2 linked regions of the Homo sapiens genome follow. The protein of the gene in region 2 purifies or fractionates together with the protein of the main gene of each other region. This does not show direct contact. Each region holds a gene or a part of one and is shown on either strand. Other genes may lie near its edges. The genes, in order: SH3GL3 and ADRB3.

Region 1 (3,808 bases), on a different chromosome or scaffold from region 2:
TAGCCACAGGAAGCAAATACATTTAACCAATGACTTTTAGGACAGGAAGCAAAAAAGAAAATATTTTCATGTAGCAAGGACAAGAAAATCATTTATACAAATTAAAGTGATATAAAATACATTATAAAGAGAGCACACATACAAAAGTCATTAAGTTGGTCAGAGAGCAAAGGATGTCACAGAACACCGCACTGAGAGCACACTGGTGTGAATTCATTTCAGTTACGAAAGTATGTCCAGAGTTTGTGTTACACATTTACTGAGGTAAAGGCACGATCACTTCCACGTAATTAATGGGGAAGAATCCCGATTCTCCGTGTATCATTCCTTCATACCAGTTTTCATCTATTTGATTGGTTAATGTAATGATGTCCCCTTCTTTAAATCCTAATTCTCCTTGGTTTTCTGGCTCAAAGTCATAGAGACCACGACAGCAGGGCTGGTCCATGGGAATGTTAGAACCTGTCCACATGATATGGAGACAAAAAGTACAGATGAACATGATGGATTATCCATGGGAAATTGGAAATGTGGAAAAGCTCAGAGAGACCCTTAACAGCAGGCCTTGCTTCCTTCCCACAAGGCCAGCTCCACCCAGCTCACGGTGCCGTTTGTGGTCTCTGGCTGCCTCAGCTCTCCCAGCTGCCTGCGCCAACCCCATGAGCCCAGAGTCTATCTTTTCAATACTCCCAGGCAGAGAAGTCGTGCCCAGCCCATCTCCCAAAAGCAGCCAGTCAGCTCCACCTGGAGCCCTAAGGGAGCGACAGAGGAATCACAGGCCCACCTCCTTCTCTCTGGGAGCTTACAGTTTCTTTGTGGGGATTAGAAAATACACGAGAAACTTTTATTTATTTATTTATCTATTTTTGAGACAGAGTCTTGCTCTGTTGCCCAGGCTGGAGTGCAATGGTGCGATCCTGGCTTACTGTAACCTCTGCCTCCCAGGTTCAAGAAATTTTCGTGCCTCAGCCTCCCAAGCAGCTGGGACTACAGGCATGCGCCACCACGCCCAGCTAATTTTGTATTTTTAGTACAGGTGGGGTTTCACCATATTGGCCAGTCTGGTCTCGAACTCCTGGCCTTAAGTGATCTGCTCACCTCAACCTCCCAAAGTGTGGGGATTACAGGCGTGATCCACTGTGCATGGCCAAAAATCTTTTAAAGAACAAATATGAAGTGTGTATCACTCATGGTTCAGGAGCTCTGGGGAGAGGGTAGTAGGGAGGACCTTGGTGGTCAGCAAGATCTTCCTAGTTAATGGGCAGGACAAGGGCCGGGAGGAGAGAAACCAGGACAAGAAAGGCAAGAATATTTACAGACCAGAATTTACAGACAAGAATATTTACTGACATCTAGTCCCAGAATAACATCAAAAACATTTTTTTCAAAACAAAATCATGCTAATTGTAAACAAAAAATACATGTATGCAAAGTGGAGAAAGAAAAGTCAGAGCTGTAAACCATTACCCCAGAGATAACTGGGCTAGCTTTCAGATTCCAGATGTCTTCATGATTATATTTGTGCATATATTTACATATAGTTGTTTTCATAAAAGATTCTTCTTGTACAAGCTAGGGTGAATATCTTTCAATTTTAGTTACTGACTAGCTGTCAGCTCTCACAATGTAACATTTCTTCAACTAATCTCCTATTGTTGGACATTTACGGTTCTTCTTTCTTTTCCTTCCTTCTCTTCTTTTCATCTCTTCTTTTCCTTCCTTCCTTCATTCTTTTCTTCCTTCTCCCTCCCTGTTTTTCTCGATTTCTCTTCCTTTTTCTTCATTTCTTTCTGTTGTCTCTTTTATTCCCCCTTGGCTTTTATAGACAATTCTTTGGGAAAAAGAGCTTATACATAAATATCTACAAATGTGCACTATTAATTTCTGAGGATAAATTCCAAGAAAAGGATTTCATGGTCATAGAACATGAATTCTTTCTAAAATATCTGACATTTAGTGTCAATTTATTTTTCTATTAGGTTGGTGCAAAAGCAATCACAGTGGCCAGGCGCAGTGGCTCACGCTTGTAATCCCAGCACTTTGGGAGGCTGAGGCGGGCGGATCACGAGTTCAGGAGATCGAGAACACAGTGAAACCCTGTCTCTACTAAAAATACAAAAAAATTAGCCGGGCGTGGTGGCGGGCACCTGTAGTCCCAGCTACTTGGAGAGGCTGAGGCAGGAGAATGGCGTGAACCCGGAAGGCGGAGGTTGCAGTGAGCCAAGATCGCGCCACCGCACTCCAGCCTGGGGGACAGAGCAAGACTCCATCTCAAAAAAAAAAAAAAAAAAAGCAATCACAATTTTTACCATTACTTTTAGTGGCAAAACCTGCAATTACTTTTGCACCAACCTAATATCACTATTTTTCTTAAGATGTTTAGAAGTCCCTTTATACTACACATATTTACCCTTTATCTGTCATTTCTGGTACAAACATTATTCCCAACTTATCATCTGTTCTTTTTTTTTCTCATTTTGTTTTTGAAGTTTGTGCTGGCAGTGGGGCAGGGAAAGGGGTTTCTATTTTGTTTTGGCATGAATGCACAAATTGAAGAGTATAAGCAGTCAAACTAATCAAACTTTCTATTCATGGTTTATTCTCCACAGTCCTATATAAAGACTCAACTAAATTTTATTCTAGTATTTTTATTTAATTTTTTTCACATCAGAACTTTTATAATCTATTTGGATTTTGGCAAAATGAGGTAAATATCTATTATATTTAATAATGCTTATGCAGTCATAACAACATACTTAAATAATCCATATTTTCTCCAGTGATTTCAAGTATTGCCTTTATCTTTATCATATATTTAATCATCATGGGACTTAGATCTATTTTTGGATTTTTTCTATTTTGTCCCACTGACTCATTTTGGTAACAGTACCATATCATTTTAAATACTGTGGCTTTATAATAAATGTTAACAGGCCGGGTGTGGTGGCTCACACCTGTAATCCCAGCACTCTGGGAGGCCAAGGCGGGCAGTTCACTTGAGGCCAGGAGTTTGAGACCACCCTGGCCAACATGGTGAAACCCCATCTCTAAAAATACAAAAGTTAGCCAGGCATGGTAGCGCATGTCTGTAATCCCAGCTACTCAAGAGGCTGAGGCAGGAGGATCACTTGAACCTGGGAGGCGGAGGTTGCAGTGAGCTGAGATCACACCACTACACTCCAGCCTGGGTGACAGAGTGAGACTCCATCTCAAAAATAAATAAATAAATAAAATGTTAATAACTAGTAAAACTAGTTCATAGTCATTACCCTTCTATTTCAATATTTCCTTGCTATTCTCATGAATTCATTTAACTAGGTATATTTCAGTATTAATATGACACATTTCTCTCACAAAAATCTCACTTCAATTTTGACTAGTTCATACTTTTTTTCTTTGAGTATTAATAAGATTAATCTTAGGAGTTTTTTTTTTTCTTAATAAGTGACTTTTGCCATCCTATTTGATGATTTCCATTTTTATTTCCTTTTTCTGTTATAAGACTTTTTCCTCCCTCTAGACTTCAAGTGAGAATTGAACAAGTTCTGCTAGAGATTATGTTCTTTCTCCACTAAGTCTTCTAGGTCCAAGTAAAGAGAATAGGTACGTTGGGGTATTTCTGTGGCTGGCCAAATGAGATGCCCCTTTGTCCTGGGGAGGGGTAGAGAGGTGACAGCATTATGGGAGGAGGAAGACAAGAGTTGGGGCAATGGAGATTCCTGTTGTGAGAAGGATTATATTATAGTTGTTTAGACAGCTTGAAATTCATGGAGTAGCGCCTATATCTCTAAGGAACAGGGCACTCTAA
Region 2 (4,435 bases):
TGTTCTAATGGTTCACCTTCTTATGAACCCTGGAGCTCCCAAAACCCTGGCGAAGTCCTTCTGACACTGCTGTGAGGTAGATCGGAGCCATTCCATGGCTAAAGTGAGAGAGGCCACTGCTTGAGAGCAGTAATAAGGGAACCAGAGATAAAACCCCAAATCTTGGTCTTTTCTACCCTGCTGCTCTCAGCCTGGGCCACAGAGCCTGGAGAACACTAAGGTCTCATCAGGGTTTGGGTGGCAGAAGGAATGGAACCAGGGGAGCTCTCTTTGCCCTAAGCACTCACTGACTGCACAGGCAAGCCGGGTGATGGGTGCCCCTACCAAAGCCAGCCTGCTGCTCCACGGCACCTGGACACTACCACTGAGGGAGGAGTGAAGTTCAAGGCTGGGGTTTAGAAAACATCTCTCAGACAGAGAGCAAGAGGATGGTGAAAACCCACTTGGTAAGGATCCCTCCTTGGGTCACATGGCCCAGTCGTCAGGTTCTGGAGGGTAGAGTGTCACAGCCGGGGAATCCCATGGGACTCATTCTGAACAGAGGCCAGAGGTTTTCCACAGGTTCTGATCAACAGAGTTGTTGCTTCTTGTCCTTCAGGCCTAAGAAACTCCCCAAGAAGCCCTGGGAAAAAAAGTGGAGATAATAGACCCTGGGGTGAAAGGAGCAACAGGTGCACTGAGGGGAATGACAGAGATCAGAGACCCTGGAACGCATATTTAGTTACACAAAAACGCCAGGGCACCACCCAGCCACACACGCCCCACCCCATCCCTACTCCAACCCAGCCCAGGGAGCGGGAGGGCACACATCTGCACTCACAGGCTCCTCACTCACAACTGTACTTCATACCGGAAGTGGATTCTCACCTCCACAGCTGTCAAACCTTTGAGAAAACCCAGAACTGAGGCCGAGGGCTTGGGGGGCGGGTGGGGGGGCACTAGCCCTGCCTTCAAGTCCGAGCCAGGTCTAGTGATGGCAAGAAATCGGGGGAGGGGGGCAAAGAACTGAGCTGGAAAACCAAAACTAGAGCCGACCCGGCGCCCTGGCTCCGGCCTGTAATCCTAATGCTTTGGAAGGCTGAGGCAGAAGGATCACTTGAGGCCAGAAGTTCAAGACAAGCCTGGGCAACATAGCAAGACCCCATCTCTACAAGAAATTTTAAAAATAGCTGGGATTGGTGGGGCTCGCCTGTAGTCCCAGATACTCAGGAGGCTGAGGTGGGAGGATCGCTTGAGCCCAGGAGCCAGGAGTTCAAGACTGCAGTGAGCTGAGATCGCGCCACTGCATTCCCGCGTGGGCGACAGAGACGAAACCCTGTCTCTATTTAAAAAAAAAAAAAATCCCTAAAGCCGACCAGGCGAGGCGAGAGTCCTCGGGACACCGCAGCGCTTTCCGGTGGCGCACCTTGGGTCCTTGGGTGAGGAACGACGGCCCGCTCGCCCTCCTTTGCTTCTACCCTAGTGACTGGATCCGGAAAGAAAAGGACCCTGGGTCCCATTTTGGTTCGCTACTCCTCGTTCCCTTTTCTCTCCAAGCAAAGCCATCCCACCTTCTCTTAATAAACTCCACACTCAAAAAGTTGACCCACGGACACATCGCATGCTTCCCGACCCTGAGCCGCCGGTCCCTCTGCCCCGGTTACCTACCCGTCGAGCCGTTGGCAAAGCCTGGGCTGCGCTGGGCTGCTCCGGGCCGCAGGAACGCCCGAGGGGAAGAGGGCCGGGCGGGCGGCGGCGCAGGGCTCCGGAGGCAGGCGACGGCCGCAGCGGCACAGAAGACGGCGGAAGGCGCTGCGAAAGTCCGGGCTGCGGCAGTAGATGAGCGGGTTGAAGGCAGAATTGGCATAACCTAGCCAGTTCAGGGCAAGGAAAGCCGGGCCCGGGACTAGAGAGGGGCCCCCCAGGGCGCGCAGCACGTTGGCCAGAAAGAAGGGCAACCAGCAGAGAGTGAAGGTGCCCATGATGAGACCCAAGGTGCACAGGGCCCGGTGTTCCCGGAGAGGCAGGAGGCGCGCGGGCCGCCGGCCGCAGGCGGGCACCCCTTCGGGCGGAGCGCACGTCCCCACCGGGGCCGGGGCCAGAGAGCGCGACGGCGCCGGCGGAGACTCCTCGGGCGGAAAGCGGCCCAGCTCCCCGCGCAGCAAGCGCAGCTGGCGCGTAGCCACCACGAAAACCCGCGCGTAGACGAAGAGCATCACGAGAAGAGGAAGGTAGAAGGAGACGGAGGAGGACAGCAGCACGTAGGGCATGTTGGAGGCGAAGGCACAGCAGCGCGGGTTGGAGTGGCAGCGCTGCGCCTCGGCGTCGGCCCCTACGCGCCACCACTGGCTCATGATGGGCGCAAACGACACCGCGGCCGACACGACCCACACCAGGACCACAGCTGTCCGGGCGCAGCGCTTGGTGACCAGTGCGCCGTAACGCAGCGGGTTGGTCACAGCCAGGTAGCGGTCCACGGCCAGGGCGCACAGGGTTTCGATGCTGGCGGTCACACACAGCACGTCCACCGAGGTCCACAGCTCGCAGCCAGTGGCGCCCAACGGCCAGTGGCCAGTCAGCGCCAAGGTGGCCGCCGGCGGCACCACCAGGAGTCCCATCACCAGGTCGGCTGCGGCCAGCGAAGTCACGAACACGTTGGTCATGGTCTGGAGTCTCGGAGTCCAGGCGATGGCCACGATGACCAGCAGGTTGCCTCCCACGGTGGCCAGCACCGCCAGCGCCAGCAGGGCCCCGGCTAGGGCCGCCTCCCACGGAACCCCTGGCAGCCCACTGGTGTTGGCGGTATTGGGCGCCAGGGTGGGGAGGTCCGGCCATGGGGCAAGAGAGCTGTTCTCGTGAGGCCACGGAGCCATCCCCGGGTCGCGCGTGGGGCGGTAGGGAAAGAAGGAAGGAGGGGGTCTCCCAAATCACCTGGCTCAGGGGAGGGGACAGCAAGGCATGAGAGCGACTTCCCCAGCCTGGGCCATCTTCTCTAGCTGTCCCAGCCAGAGCGCTCAGCCTCCCCCCACCCCAACTCCCTCGGTGCCACCGCTCTTGGGGGAGGAGTAGCGACGCTTAAAGGGGCAGCTGCCTATAGTCTGGAGGGGCCTCTGGAGCCGAATTGGAGAGTGGGGAGGATGGCCAATGGGATGCTCCACGTTTCCTTTAGCTAAATCTGGAGGAAGGGACACCGTGGTTCCTCTGCCACCATCTGTCCACCCCTGCCGTGGCCAGGCTCCTGGACTCAGCATAGCACTCCCTGGGCACTGGCTTCCTGGAGCCCTGCACCTCCTTTCCCAGAAGTTCCCACAGCAAGGCAGGGGAAGGAGAGAGGAGAGCGCTCCCATCCCCACCCTTTATGTATCAGAGGCAAAGGTAACCCGCTGGAGTCAAGCAAAGGATTCACAGGAGCCCCGCATCCACTTGGGTGGCCTCCCCTAAGGTATTTTAAATTAAGTAATAGGGCTCAGCCAGTATCTCCTCTCCCAAGACCTCAGCTTGGTGAGATCTGTCCCCTTTCCCTTCTGTTTCAGTTACCTTCTCTTTCCTTCTAGCTTTTTGTTTTTTTTAATATTTTCAGGTACTGAGGAAATTTACCATATTTCAAGTCTCTCTCTCTCTCTATTTTTCCCAGGCTGGCTTTGAACTCCCGGGCTCAAGCCACCCTCCTGTCCCAGCCTCCTGAGTAGTTGGAATTGCAGGCGTGAACCACTAGGAGGCTCAGGAGTCTTTTTCTTTTTCTTTTCTTTTTTTTTTTTTTTTTGAGACGGCGTCTCGCTCTGTCACCCAGGCTGGAGGCTGGAGTGCAATGATGTGATGTCTGCTCACTGCAATCTCCACCTCCCGGGTTCAAGCGCTTCTCCTGCCTCAGCCTCCCAAGTAGCTGGGACTGCAGGCACCCGCCAGCATGCCCAACTAATTTTTATATTTTTAGTAGAGACGGGGTTTCACCATGTTGGCCAGGATGGTCTCGATCTCCTGACCTCGTGATCCGCCCGCCTCGGCCTCCCAAAGTGCTGGGATTACAGGCGTGAGCCATCGCGCCCGGCCAGGAGTCTTTTTCATTGCTAGCTCTGGATTTGCATTTGGATTTGGCACTATGTAGTCTGGGATGCTGAAGAATTTCAATTTCTCCATCTTCCCCACTCTGCACTGCCCCTTCCATGCACCTTTCCACCTAGAGATTTTCTAGATAGCCCCTTCTCTTAAAATCTTTCTGCTATAAAGACATATTAAAAATGGATGAATCAACAGGTGGGCGCGGTGGCTCACGCCTGTAATCCCAGCACTTTGGGAGGTCGAGGTGGGCAGATCACCTGAGGTCAGGAGTTCAAGACCAGCCTGAACAACAAGGAGAAACCCTGTCTCTACTAAAAATACAAAAAAAAAAAAAAAAAATTAGCCAGGTGTGGTGGCGCATGCCTGTAATCCCAGCTACTCAAGAGGCTGAGGCAGG

The links.
Region 1: the proteins of ADRB3 (region 2) and SH3GL3 purify together in Homo sapiens (pull-down; one study listed by IntAct). This does not show direct contact.

Annotation. Positions count from the first base shown.
Region 1 is NC_000015.10:83,614,736-83,618,543, reverse strand, and holds part of SH3GL3 (endophilin-A3), read right to left. Parts: intron 463-3,808; coding exon 257-462; 3' UTR 1-256. UniProt on the Homo sapiens protein: Implicated in endocytosis. May recruit other proteins to membranes with high curvature.
Region 2 is NC_000008.11:37,963,618-37,968,052, forward strand, and holds the start of ADRB3 (beta-3 adrenergic receptor), read right to left. Parts: upstream 2,983-4,435; 5' UTR 2,853-2,982; coding exon 1,648-2,852; intron 623-1,647; coding exon 601-622; 3' UTR 1-600. UniProt on the Homo sapiens protein: Beta-adrenergic receptors mediate the catecholamine-induced activation of adenylate cyclase through the action of G proteins. Beta-3 is involved in the regulation of lipolysis and thermogenesis.